Regions from separate parts of the Homo sapiens genome. Here region 1 is linked to region 2. Evidence: fine-mapped expression QTL. Tissue or cell type: whole blood. Region 2 holds a variant in brackets; the other region holds the start of a gene. All regions are shown on one strand. Distances are between the middles of the regions.

The links. PIP is the estimated chance that this variant, and not a neighbour inherited with it, causes the effect.
Region 1: it holds the start of TSPAN18, and the variant in region 2 is fine-mapped to the expression of TSPAN18 in whole blood (TOPMed, PIP above 0.99). The same link has a PIP of 0.9 or more in T cells and blood mononuclear cells.

Annotation. Positions count from the first base shown.
Region 1 is chr11:44,722,941-44,729,045 of GRCh38, reverse strand. It overlaps TSPAN18 (tetraspanin 18), which reads right to left and starts at 2,084. Exons shown (of 10, transcript NM_130783.5): 1 at 1,759-2,084. All of the region lies in intron 2 of TSPAN18-AS1 (TSPAN18 antisense RNA 1), which reads left to right. RefSeq lists enhancers at 1-79, 80-582, 2,298-2,467, 1,834-2,695, 2,696-3,556 and silencers at 952-1,121, 1,958-2,107.
Region 2 is chr11:44,676,824-44,685,103 of GRCh38, reverse strand. No RefSeq gene overlaps it. Among named protein-coding and RNA genes, the nearest start is that of LINC02704, 20 kb to the left of the region's middle. The variant C/T (reference allele first, on the strand shown) is at 3,955.

The DNA.
Region 1 (6,105 bases), 45 kb before region 2:
TCAGGGACCCCCATTTCCCCCACCTTTGTAAGGGACATTAAGGACATGGGAGCAGGAGGGGGGCTGCCCAAGGAGCACAGGTTACCAGCTAAGAGAAAGATGAAAACTTCTACCAACCACAATGAGGCCACGGCACAATCTATGATTTGCTCCTTTGCACTCACTTGGGGTGATGGGAGGAGGGAGGGAACTGGAGAGAAAGATGAGGCAATAGTCCCTCCAATGTCCCTTCAATGTTAGCCCCGCACATGACAAAGATGACAGTCCTCACAGATGCCAGCAGCCGTCGACTTCCCAAGGCACAGACACACAGACTCAACATACAGGGACCCTGAGGCCAGACAACTGGGACCCAGGGCAGATTTCCACCAATAATTGTGAAATGACCAGAAGAATGTGGCCTAGAGACCACAGACCCAGGGGATGAGGGTGGGGGCCAGGGCTCGTTGACTGCTGAGAAATTTAACACTTCTGCCTGGACTGCTGAAGTCTTTAAGGCCCCATCCCCCACCGCCCGCCCTGTGCCTCCCAGTTTACTTGTGCCCAGAGAGAGGATACCCCAAGACCCCCATCCTGCCTTCACCAGACAGGGATTCGACCAGATCCAGGAAACAAAGGTGCAACTTTTACAAAAAGGGTGCATGCATTTTGGGGTTTGGGTTTCTGCAACTCCAAAAACCGTCAAAAAGTTAATTCCCCAACCCACTCTCTCTGCACCAATTCGCAGTTGTAGTTTCTTACATCTTTTTCTGGGGGTAAATTTCTTACTCATCCATTTGCCCTGGCAGCCTTCCCGAGAAAAATCACATCCTGACTCCTAGCCTTTCCAGCCCACGGCGCAGTTATAACTGTGAACCTTTCGCCTCACTCTTGGTCCCGCTCCCCCGTCTGGCTAGTGTAGGGCGGGCTCCTCGGGGCGGGACCCCGCGTAAGTTGGGTGTCTGTGGTCCCTGCGTCCTGGATGTCGGCGCGGTTGCCTCGCAGGAGCCAGAACGCGCTTCCTGCTGGCGAGGGCCGGGGCAGTGCGCCCCCTGGCGGGAGCCCAGTCACCTCACTCCAGCAGGACCCGGAGCCGGCGCGATCCCACCCGAGCCGAGCACCGTCCCAACTGGCTCCCACTGCCCCCTAAATCTGGACGTGCCCGAGCCTCCCACCCACCCAGCACTCCATGGAGTCTCCACTTCCCCAAACCGCACACACCTAAGGAATAAGGGGGGTCCTGGAGGAACGAGTGGCGCCTCCGCCCCGCCCCGCCCCGCTGCCAGGGACCCCAAAGGCAGCCCGCCCTCCATGCAGCTGCCGGGCCCCACAGCCCTCCCGGCCCCGATCGCCGCTCCCAGTCCCTGGTCCCTCACTGTCTTACCGGGTGGCGTGGCGAGCAGCCCCTTTCCGGGCGCAGCCCTGGCCGAAACCCCGAACCTTGTAACCACACCTGCCACCCCGCGCCGTTCTCCAGAAGCCCCCACTCCTCCACCCGGAGCACTGGGAGCCCACCGGCTCTGCACCTGTCCTGGGCGCAGCCCCCGGCCCTCAGCGGACTCCGGGCAGGCACGGGGTGGAGACCGTCCCCGGCCCCCCAGCCCCCGCGTGCTAGTTTGAGTGGAACTTGGTTGCCGGGCTTCCGTCCTGGGATCCCTACTCCACCCCAATTCCCCGCCGCGTCCAGCAGCACCCCCGGGGCGGCGCGCGGGGGGGTCCCCAGGTCCCCGGGGGCGCGGCGGCGGCGTGCGGAGGGCACGGAGGTGCGGAGCCCCATACCTTCCAGCGGCGGCTGCCGGACCCCGCGCCAAATCCCGCCGGCGGCCGGGGGGAAACTTTCCTGGTCGGAGGGGCGCGCTCGCAACTTGCCCGGCGCCGGCTGCCTTCCCGGCGGTGGCGGCGCGTCCGGGGACCCGCAGCGCGAGGCGGCGGCGCTCGCTCGGGGCTCGGGGCCGGGACCGGGGCCGGGGCCGGGGCCGGGGCCGGGGCCGGGGCTGGGGCCGGGGCCGGGGCTGGGGCTCGGGCGGCCTCGCGCGGCTCCGCGGTGGATCGCTCGGCGCTACGTCCGCCCCGCAGCCTGGAGCCCCGCGACGCCGGCGGCAGCTGCACGCCCGCCAGCCCGCCGGCCCCACCTCCGCCGCCGTCCGTCCCTCCCCTCCCCCGCCCTCCCTCCCCCTCCCCAAACCTCCGCCCCTCCCGGCTCCAGACGCCGTTGCTGCCGAGAAGCGCGTCTCCTCTGCGGGCTGCCCCTCGCCTCCCGCCAGCCTCCGCCTCCTCCTCCAACCCCGCGTCCAGGCCTTGTCTGGGGGTCCCTGGGCCCACCCTCTGCCCATCTCCCCTTCCTCCGCCTCCGACCACCTCCCGCTCTGCTCGCGGGCCCTCTCTGCGTCTGAATTCGGAAGATCGTTGCGGGAGTGGGGAGAGGGGCATGCTGGACCCGAAGTGTTTATTCCAGGGGAACTTTCAGCTGACCCCGGGGCCCAAACGCAGGGGTTGGGGTGAGATCCTCGGTCCTGATCGGGCTCCTGGGCTTCCCGCTGCCGGGGGAAGTACCTGTTGAAAGCCTGGGGAACTCACCCTCCTCTGACTTGCAGATAAGAAAGGGGACTTCCTGCATGGAGGGGCCTGACCCCAGGTCAGATGCAAATGACTTGATTGCAAGGGGCCAGATCTGTGTCTCCGGCCTCAGGGCTGAGGTTCTTGCGGGGCTGGGGAGCTTATCTTTTCTTCTCTGTACTGCTGCCACAGCAGCACTGGCTCCCAACCCCTGACATGACTTGCCTGAGACTTTTAACCTCTGAGCCTCCTCTAAACAACTACCCGACCCTGCCCCAGACAAAACGGACAAGCAAGCAGATCAAAACTGACAGCCCAAGTGAAAGTACTGATGACAGGGGCTCGGGTCGCCCACTCCTCTTCCCTTGGCAACTCTGTTTTGAGTCCCAGCTTGAAGCTTCCACACCCCATCCCCGTGGGCCCTAGGCATTCAAGCACACATCAGCTCTGCAGGAGGCCCCTTGGCCAGCTGATTCTCACTAAGGGGTGACTGATAGGAAGGAGTTGACCCTACTCCTGTCTTGTATATGGATGTTGGTAGTCAGGCCACTGGGCAGAGTTTGGGGGGAGGGGGATCTTCTTGTTTTGTTTTTGTTTTGTTTTTGAGACAAGGTCTCGCTCTGCTGACCAGGCTGGACAAGCCTGGTCAACAAGCACAGCTCACTGTAGCCCGACCTCCTGCACGGCTTACTGTAGGCTCGACCTCCTGGGCTCAAGCAATCCAATCCTTCCAACTCAGCCCCCTCGAGTAGCTGGGACCAGAGGCATGTGCCATCATGCCTGGCTAATGTTTTCTGTTGTTTTTGGTGTGTGTGTGTGTGTGTGTGTGTGTGTGTGTGTGTGTGTGCGTGTGTGTTTTGTAGAGCTGGACTCTTACCATGTTGCCCAGGCTGGTCTCCAATTCCTGGCCTCAAGTGATCCTCCCACCTCAGTCTCCCAAAGTGCTGAGATGACAGACGTAGCCACTGCACCCAGCCACCAGCCAGAGTTTTGAGAGGCAGGAAGTGGCTGCCTTTCCTTGCCCACATTCCAGGAAATGGATTCGTCCCTGTAAGGGGATGTCCCTGTAAGGACTTCAGGGATGTCTGGTCCTTTAAAGAACTTCACCGCGTCACCGGGACTCTTAGAGTAGGCACGTGGCTGGAAGAAAAATCCCTGGATCCGCGGTTTCAAAGGGACCCAGAGTGAGCAAAGCTTCACCCAAGGGGAGGAAGTCCCTAATGGTGGAATTTCTATAAGAGGAGGACAAGGAGAAGGGCTCCACATTCACCCTTCAGCTGCCAAAACAGAATGGAGGGTGGAGGCTGAACACCCCACAGGCCCTGCACTTGTGGAATGCTGCTGGGAGAGGCCCCGTGTGAGCCTCCTTGGACACCAGGCGCCACATACATTTAAAGAGGAAAAACGGGAAGCCCACAGCAAGGGTGCTGGAGCTGGGGAAGTGGAGACCAGAGACAGGCAGAGAGAGGGATAGAGTCTCTAAGGGTCTGGGGCTTGGCAGAACGGGGCAGGCGCAGGGGAAGAGAGTGCAGACCCGCTGCACAACTTAGACAACCAGCTCGGTCCCTGACTCCAGTTCCAAGTCAGTTTCCTGGACCTCAGCCTCTCTCCAGCCTCCATGGAGGACCTGGCCCTATCTGTGCATTAGCTAAGGACATCTGCTGAATAGGCTTCTCTAAATCAACTCTTATTTTTTCATTCTTTTTTAATTTACTTAAGTGAGCTTGTTTTTAAAAAGATATGTTAAATTATTACCATAAATGGAAAGCCAGCATCACATTACTATAAATAGAAGGTAACCATCAAAATAAATACAATGAAAATAAGTGTTATTAAATTCTAACAATGTATCTTTAACCACAATAATAATAATACAGTCTAACAAGATACTGCTGCCTGAGGAGGTGTTGAAGCTGAGGTCCCACTTTCTCTTTGAAAGGAAGGTTACCAAAGGCTAGAAAGGTGTTAAAGACACATTAGCAACAAACTCTTCATCAAGAGCATTGATGAAAAGAGAATTGGGAAGGGACCCCCTCCACTCCCACTCCTCACCAGGTCAATTAGGGTATTGGAGGCCCTTGGATTACCTCCAATGACCTTAATTTCCTTGAACATCTCGAATGTCCTCTCAATTGGGAAACATAATTCTATGTATTGGTGCAAAAGTAATTGTGGGCTGGGTGCAGTGGCTCACACCTGTAATCCCAACACTTTGGGAGGCCTAGGTGGGTGGATCACGAGGTCAGGAGATTGAAACCCTCCTGGCCAACATGGTGAAACCCCGTCTCTACTAAAAATACAAAAATTAGCTGGGCATGGCAGCACGTGCCTGTAATCCTAGCTATTCGGGAGGCTGAGGCAGGAGAATTGCTTGAACCCGAGAGGCAGAGGTTGCAGTGAGCCGACATTGCGCCACTGAACTCCAGCCTGGCGACAGAGCTAGACTCTGTCTCAAAAAAAAAAAAAGAAAAAAGTAATTGTGGATCTCATCATTGAATGTAATGGCGAGAACCACAATTACTTTTGTACCAACCTTATATTAGGCCAAAAAAGTACTTTATTTTTTTAAAGTTAGGCGCCCGAAAAATTTAGTCCTGGACAAGATAAGGCTGACTCGGGTTACAGGAAGACCGCACCTCCCTCTCACAAGGTAATCTTGAGGAAATCCCTCCCTTCTCTGGCCTCGGTCCTTACATCTGTAAAATGGAGGCTTGGGCAAATGGCCCATAGAATCCCTTTGGCTGTTTGATGAAAGCAAGTAAGACACCAAGATTGTGGCTTATCAGGAAACTTAGAGGGTGAAGTCTCCACCAAGGAGAGGGGCTAAAGAGGGGAGAAGCTGGGAAGGAACGAAAGAGCAGGTGGTGGGGCTGTGGATGGATGGGCAGTCCTCAGGAGGGAGAAGGAGCAGTGAAGGCCAGAGCCGACCCACTGGAGTCTAGGTTGGCAGAAACCCGGAAGTGGCCTGGCCTGAAAGTTCTAAAAAGATTCGGGAAGGAAACTTGTGGAGAATTCACTGTAATCCAACCACTTCATTTCACCAATAGGGAAACTGAGGAAGAAACATAGACTAGATTCTCATCATGGTTAAGAGCTGGGCATTGAACCCAGACCTCCTGACTCCCAGGCCAGGGTGCTTTCAATACCTCTGGAATTGGGGCATCTAGTGGAAGTGGTTCTTCTGAAAATACTCACCTTTCCCCTAGGAAGCTCTTAGGCTTCGCTTTCTCCAGCATCTGGAGAAAAAAGTTGAATTGGCCTAAAAGCCCCAAATTCACCGAAGTGTGTCTAGTGCTGCACCACCCAGGTTCTACGCCCCAATCACTGTACACAGGATTTACAGTGATTGGGGTGAGCATTTGCAGACCTAATGCCCAGCAAAGATCCCTGAACCAGGAGTCCACAGGCCCACGTTCCAGTCTTGGCCATCTGGGCGATTCCTTCCCCTCTCTGGGCCTCAGTGTTACCATCTGTGAAATGAGGCATCTGGACAAGATCAACAGGTTTCAAGTTGGGTTGGTAGGTACTGCTCCTGGGTATCTTAAGAATGAGAATATCTTAAGAATGAGA
Region 2 (8,280 bases):
GTCCAGCTGATTAGGCCCCGTGGGGCGCATTCCTGCAGCCAGCCTCTTGTTCCCCGTAATGGAATCATAATGTTAATGTGATTTCAATTAGGGCTATGTTACAGAACACAGGTGCTGGAGTGAGCCTGCAGGCGGGGAGGCCTCCTCAGGGACTCATTTTCCTGGGAAAGGTACGCGTCTTTCCAAGGCCTCAGGAAAAAGCAAGTCACCCCGGCTGAAGGGAAGACATGAAAGCAGGGACGAGAGGTATCAGAGCCCACACTCCCGGCTCTTCAGGGGCCCCAGACTTGTTTCTTATTCAACTTGAGTAGCAGGCCCCTTTTACAGAGTGTCTTGGGGGCCCCTGAGATCCACAGGTCCCAATTTGAGAAACAACGGCCCAAGAACCAAAATCTTATCCCAGGAAAATGTCTTTCTGTTGCGAATTATCACTGCAACAGAGATGAATAAATGATAGATGGCTTTTTTATTTTTCTTAATAAAAATAGCTCACATGTATGGAGGCTTCACTATGTCCCAGACACAACTTTTAGTACATTATGTGTATGTACAACTCATTCCTCGGATTTCATTATGAAAATGAAAGCACACAAATATTTTTTGGACAATTTTCTTTTTCTTTTTCTTTTTCTTTTCTTTTTTTTTTTTTTTTTTTGTTGAGACAGAGTCTTGTTCTGTTGCCCAGGCTGGAGTGCAGTGGCACAATCTTGGCTCACTGCAAACTCCGCCTCCCAGGTTCAAGTGATTCTCGTGCCTCAGCCTCCCGAGTAGCTGGGATTACAGGTGTGCACCACTATGCCTGGCTAATTTTTTTGTATTTTTAGTGGGGATGGGTTTTCACCATGTTGGTCAGGCTGGTCTCGAACTGCTGGCCTCAAGTGATTTGCCTGCCTTGGCCTCCCAAAGTGCTGGGATTACAGGCATGAGTCACTGTGCCCGGCCATTTTTTGGACACTTTTCATAGAATGCAAGGACCCCCTAAGGACACATTTCCAGATTGCAGTCTGAGAAACCCCAGCCTGGGGTAGCTGGGCCAGATGGGACCTTCAGGGAGCCCTGGGCCAGTTCTCATCCTACAGGTGAGGAAGCCAAGAGCCAGAGAGGGGAAGGGACTTGCCCAAGGCCTCCTTGCAAGTCAGTGGCCAATAGAACATCCAACCCAGATGCCCTGCCCCCCAGGGCCCAAGCCCTTTTTCCTTCCACCATGCTCATGATGAAGAAAGTATGGGGAGAAAATAAAAATTATCCCAAATCCCGCTACCCAGAAATCTCCATTGCTGACATCCTAGAATATCCTTCCAGCCTTTTACTCCAGACATATACAACTGGCCCTCCATATCTGCAGTTTCTGCATGTGCAGATGCAACCAACTGAGGGTCATAAATATTCAAAAAACTAAAACCAAAAAATGCAACAATAAAAATAATACAAGTTAAAAATATACTACAGCAACTATTTATGTAGCATTTACATTGTATTAAGTATTATAAGTAATCTAGAGATGATTTGAAGTATATGGGAGGATGTGCATAAGTTATATGCAAATATGACTCCATTTTATATAAGGGACTTGAGTATCTGTGGATTTTGGTATCCACAGGGGATCCTGGAACCAATCCTGTAGGGATACTGAAAGATGACTGTATGCACTTTACAGCACAAAATCGGATAATAGTGACTAGGCTATTTAGTAATCTGTTATTTTTCCCCATCTAAAGATAGCATGTCAACTGGGCAGCACTGGGTCATTTATTTCTGATACCCATGTCATTCTAATGACACCCATGGGCTCAAGGTGGCCTTTTTTGAAGGTCTCATGTTGCCCAGGTTCTCCCATGACTCCTTTATTGCAAACACTAAAAGTGATTTGCATTTCTCTGATCAGGTCTTCAATTCATGCCTCCATGCCCTTTTACTTGCTGGTTTCTACCAGCAAAGCCCTTCTCTGCTTAGCAAAATCACACTCAGCTCACATATTACTTCTGCAGTGAAGCCTTCCCTGGCTACTCTAGCATCATCCTCTCCTCTCCCCGTGCCCTTATCTTCTTGCAATGCTTCTACAGGATGTTTTATCTGGTCCTGTTTGAGCATCTGTCACTTTGTATTTCTACTGTACAGGGTGTCCATAAAATCTGGAAACAGGCAAACATACAGAATATTGTCAAAGACATCTTTCATATGTAACATATACATACATTGTTATGACTTTCTAGGCTTCTGGACTTCATGGATACCCTGTATTTTCACTGGTCAGTCCCCTTCATTCCATGGTGAGTGCTGGAAGTCAGAGAAACACTATCTTCTTCATATTTGTATCTCTAAGGGAGTATTTAGGTGATTATTGATCACAGTTTCCTCATCTGTGACATGGGACCCTTTGGATAGTGGTAGGTGAGATGAGATAATGCAAGAAAGCAATTAGCACAGTGACTGATGCAAAGTAAGCTTTCCATAAATAGTGGCTATAACTGTTTGTAGTATAATTGCTATTGTTATTAAGCCTGTGGCTTTTTGAACAAGGGATGTGCAGAGTGAGGGAGGGATGACTAAATGAACAGATGATGGATGAATGGATAATGAGTGAAAGGATGAGAATATGGATGGGTGATAAAGGGAGAAGGATGGATGATTAATAGAGGCTGGATGGATAGTCTTAGAATGGATAAATGGAAGGATGGAAGGATGGGTGGATGGGTGGATGTATGGATGGATAAATGGATAGATGGATAGATGATGGATGAATGGGTGGATGGATGGATGATGGATAGATAGGTGGGTAGGTGAATGGGTACATAATGGATAGTTGGATGTGTGAGTGATGGATTGATGAATGAAGGGTCCATCTTTTCCTTTCATAAGTAAGGATAGAAGAAAGGAGGCAAGAGGTTGACAGGAAGACCAAAGGTCTTGGTGGCTAGAGACAAGAGTCAAAGGCTACTTGTTATCCCAGCCTTCTACCATAGCCCAGATCTCAACTAGGTCTCATAACTTAGTCTCCGAGTGACTGTTCCTAGGCCGACTTGAGGTTATGCCTCTGGAATAAGAAGAGATTGGCTGTGGAATAGCTGAAGGAGCAAATGTAGGGCTATAAATCTGCCCTTGGCCGAGAGGCTTTCTTAGAATTCACTGTGAAGTTCACTGACCATGAAGTTGCTTCTTGGGGGAAGGGAAGCCCTAAGCTCTCCTCCACTGGCAAGGAAGAGTGAGTCATTATGGTGACCTGAAGGTTGCAGAAGCAAACACCACATTGCTGCCCAGCTGGCCCTAGCTGCAGGTCCTGAGGGGCCTTTTCAGACACATCCAGGAGAGGTCTCAGGGAATGATCCCCAACCAGCCACCCAAGTGGGATTATAGGGGGAGTGAAGAGCAGGGCAAGCCCCTGGGAGGGAGCTTGGAGGGGTCCCAGAATCCTGGAGCACCAGCACCAGCAGAGACTCAGGGATCCTCCAGGCCACCCCACCCATGGGGCAGATGGAGACACAGAGGCAAGAGAGGGTGGTGGCTTCCCCAGGTGCCCTGCAGGTCAATCAAGGGTGGAGTCGGCGCTTGAATGCAGGTCCCAGGCTGTGGGGTCTCTCCAGTCCTCACTGTTAGCTATTCCTTGGCTGTGGGGTGAAACCACCCAGACTCTCCAGGAAACCCTGAGGCTTCTCAGGCAGGGCGTGGCTAGAAGCAGTTTCCTGGGGGCTGGTTTATATTCCGACACTGGTGTGTCTTTCACCACAGCCCCTGTAATGTTCCAGGAGTCACTCTCCAGGATTCTTGGATGCTGAGAAACCCTCCCAGGCCCTGAGGCCGATAAAAGAGTGTTGGATCAAGTCCCTCTCTGCTGCGTGGAGCCCACGGTGATTATCTCTGGGACTCTGACTTGAAGAAGCCAGGAAGACAGAACAGTGGCTTTTCAGGAGCTGCAGGTCAGGCCCTGCCCAGTGGAAACAGCCACACCTGAGAAAC[C/T]CACATCCTTTTGCTGGGGAGCCAGAGTGCCTGGGCGGGGTGTCCTGACTCCTCCCCTTACTAGCATGGCCTTCAGGGAGGTACCTCCTCTCTTTCTGCATTTCATGGCTGAAGAGAGGGGGATGGGGGCGAGGGATGCCAAGAAAGGGTGGCCTGAGAGAAAAGAGGAAACTTAGGAATGCATTTGGGCCTGTTTACTGAAGGCCTGTTTACTCTGCTCCTTGCACCCAAATCCCACTGAAAACAATAACGAATTTGGGGGGAAAAAATAGAGCAAGACCTCCTTTTTTTTTTTCTTTTTTTTTGAGAGAAGTCACCCAGGCTGGAGTGCCATGGCACGATCTTGGCTCACTGCAATCTCTACCTCCTGGGTTCAAGTGATTCTCCTGCCTCAGCCTCCCTAGTAGCTGGGACTACAGGTACCTGCCACCACACCCAGCTAATTTTTGTATTTTTAGTAGAGATGGGGTTTCACCATGTTGGCCAGGCTGGTCTCTAACTCCTGTACTCAGGTGATCTGCCCACCTAGGCCTCCCAAAGTGCTGAGATTACAGGTGCCATTTTTTATTAAACCAGAAAGTATACATGCTGCTAAATGCCACAAATATGAAGAGGGCACAGAGAGACGAGGAGGAAGCCAGTCTCCCTACAGACAGCACCACTGGGAGGCCTCCTCTGTGGATGATAGGGTCTGGGGGCAGCTCAGGCTGCAGGGTCATGAGAAACATCCTTCTGTAGACCCAGTTCAATAGCACAGGACAGTGGGGGGCGAGACGGGACGTGCTGACCGTCCATGTCTCCTGCCTGGCACCCAACTCCTCCCAGCACCAGGAGACTGCTGGGGCGAAGTAGAGGAAGGAGGACGTTTGAAGGCCTTTGCTGAGTCTTGGCAAACCTCAGTGCTGAAGTGGGAGGTGATGTATGTCCAAGGAATAACAATAAAGGATTTGGAAAGAGCATGTCTGCTGGAAACAAACCCTAGTCACTTTCTGGGTTGCATACCTCTCTCTTCAATATCATCCTGCAACAAATGACTGGCTGTGTTCTAAGGTGAATGATAATCACAAAGGAACCAAAAAGGGACTAAAGAAAACAAAAAGGCAATAGAGGTAAGGAACGTAAGCAAAGACCACAAGAACTGACGTCAGGAGAGGACTTATTAAACAAACAAAAAACACAGAGGGAGAGTCAGACACACAGTGCTCCAGGTACTCAAAGAGATTGCACACGACCCAACCTCCTTAATGAGCTAAAAGATGTCAAGGTTTCCATAAAGCACTTATGAGGCAACAGACAGAAAGACACCAGCTCTCAGGAAAGAAATAGAAGCAAAAAATAAAGACACTTTGAAATTAAAAAGACATATGGGCTGGGTGCAGTGGCTGATGCCTGTAATCCCAACAATTTGGGAGGCCAAGGTGGGCAGATTACTTGATGTCAGGAGTTCGAGATCAGCCTTGCCAACATGTCGAAACCCTGTTTCTACTAAAAATACAAAAATTAGCTGGGCGTGGTGGTGGGCACCTGTAATCCCAGCTACTCGGGAGGCTGAGGAGGAGAATCGCTTGAACCCAGGAGGCGGAGGTTGTAGTGAGCCGAGATCGTACTATTGCACTCCAGCCTGGGTGACAAGAGCAAAACTCTGCGTCAATTAAAAAAAAAAAAAAAAAGACGTATGGATACAAACAGCCAACAAACATATGAAAAAAAAATGCCCAACATCACTAATTATCAGGGAAATGCAAATGAACACCACAATGAGCTACCACAGTACTCCTGCAAGAATGGCCATAATTAAAAAGTCAAAAAATAATAGATGTTGATGTGGATGTGGTGAAAATGGAACACTTTTACTCTGCTAGTGGGAATGTAAACTAGTACAACCACTATGGAAGACAGTGTGGAAATACCTTAGAGAACTAAAAATAGAGCTACCGTTCCATCCAGCAATCCCATTGCTGGGTATCTACCCAAAGGAAAAGAAAGTCATTATACGAATAAGACACCTGCATGCATATGGGCATAGCAGCACAGCTCACAATTGCCAAAATATGGAACTAATCATATTCAACCAATCATGTTCCAAAATATGGAACCAACGATATTCAATCAACGAGCGGATAAAGAAAATGTGGTATATATACACCATGGAATACTACTCAGCCGTAAAAAAGGATGGGATAATGTCTTTTGCGGCAACTTGGATGGCGCTGGAGGCCATTATTCTAAGTGAAGTAACTCAGGAATGGAAAACCAAATACCATATGTTCTTACTTATAAGTGGGAGCTAAGCTACGGAGATGCAAAGGCATAAGAATGATATAATGGTGGCTGGGCACGGTGGCTCACACCTGTAATCCCAGAACTTTGGGAGGCTGATGCAGATGGATCACAAGGTCAAGAGATTGAGACCATCCTGGCCAATATGGTGAAACCCCATCTCTACTAAAAACACAAATTAGCTGGGCGTGGTTGTGCGCACATGTAATCCCAGCTGCTCAGGAGGCTGAGGCAGGAGAATCATTTGAACCCACAAGGTGGAGGTTGCAGTAAGCCAAGATTGCGCCACTGCACTCCAGCTGGGCGACTCCGTCTCAAAACCACCCCCCTGCCAAAAAAAAAGAATGATATAATGGACTCCGGGGACTCGAGGTGAAGGGTGAGGGGTAAATGACTACATATTGGGTATAGTGTACACAGCTCGGGTGACAGGTGCACCAAAATCTCAGAAATCACCACTAAAGAATCTACGCAGGTAACCAAAAAACACCTGCACTCCCAAAACTATTCAAATTTTTTTTAAAAAGAAGAAAGACATTATGAAAACAAGAAAAACAACTCATGGGATAAACAGAAACACAGAGTGGAGAAGGCCACATAGTGAACATCTGGGGAAAACACACGAATGTAAAGAAACAAACAAAACATATACCAATAGTTCTATTAATTTTCTAGGGCTGCTGTGGCCAAGTACCACAAGTACTGGATGGCTTAAAATAAGAGAAATGTAATCTCTCATAGTTCTGGAGGCTGGAATTCTGAAATCCTGTTGGTAGCAGCATTGGCTTCTTCTGGGGGCCCTGTGGGAGAAGCTGCTCCACAGCTCCAGCCTAACCTTCTAGGTGTGCCTGGCAACTCTTGGCGGTCTTTGGCTTCTAGCTGCAACAGCCTAATCTCTGCCTTTGATGTTCCACGCATTGTTCTCTCCATGTGTCTGCATCTCCCTCCTCTTCATATAAGGACTCTAGTCATATTGGATTTAGGGCCCCTCTAATCCAGTGTGACCTCATCTGAATTAATTACATCGACCCTATTTCTCAATAAAGTCACATTGTTGGGGACAGGGCATCAGGGCTTCAACATAGCTCTTTGAGGCCAGGCGTGGTGGCTCACACCTGTAATCCCAGCACTTTGGGAGGCCAAGGCAGGTGGATCACAAGGTCAAGAGATAGAGACCATCCTGGCCAACGTGGTGAAACCCCATCTCTACTAAAAATACAAAAATTAGCTGGGCATGGTGGTGTGTGCCTGTAATCTCAGCTCTCCTGCCTCAGGAGGCTGAGGCAGGGGAATCACTTGAACCCGGGAGGTGGAGGTTGCAGTGAGCTGGGATTACGCCACTGCACTCCAGCCTGGCAACAGAGCAAGATTCCATCTCAAAAAAACAAAACAACAACAACAAAAAAACCATAGCTTTTTGAGAGGATCCAACTCAGCCCATAACAGTTATAGGAAAGACTAAGAGACGTGGAGGACAGATCAGAGGCAGACATTTGCACAGTCAGTTCCTGAAAAGAGAAAGAGAACAAATGGAACAACGATGAAAAATAGTCTGACATAACAGGGAAAAACATTCCTAAAATAAAGATTTGAATGTGAATATAAAAGATTGATTCAAGACCATCAGCATCAAGCATTATACGCTAATGAAGGTATTGAAATACAAGGCTAAAGAATCATATGGGAGTCCAGGTAAAAAATCTCAAGTCACGTGAGTGGGGGAAATCAGGCTGGCTGCAGGCTTCTCTCTAGGAACATGCCAGAGTCTGTGGGGCAGAGTCTACAAGCTCCCAGAGGATAGAAAGTATGACCCGAGAAATTTATACCCAGACAATTTCCTTCAAATTGAAAGGCCATAGACAGACATTCTCAAGAGTTCTAGAATTTAGGGAATGAGTGCCTCTTAGTCCTTCTTGAAACAAAAAATTAGGCAATGAAATGTAGCCAACAAAGGGATTTATTAAAATAAATAGCTCAGAATGGAGAAGCCAGGGTAAACATATTGGTGACAAGCTCTGAATCAATTTAAATATAGAAATAAAAATC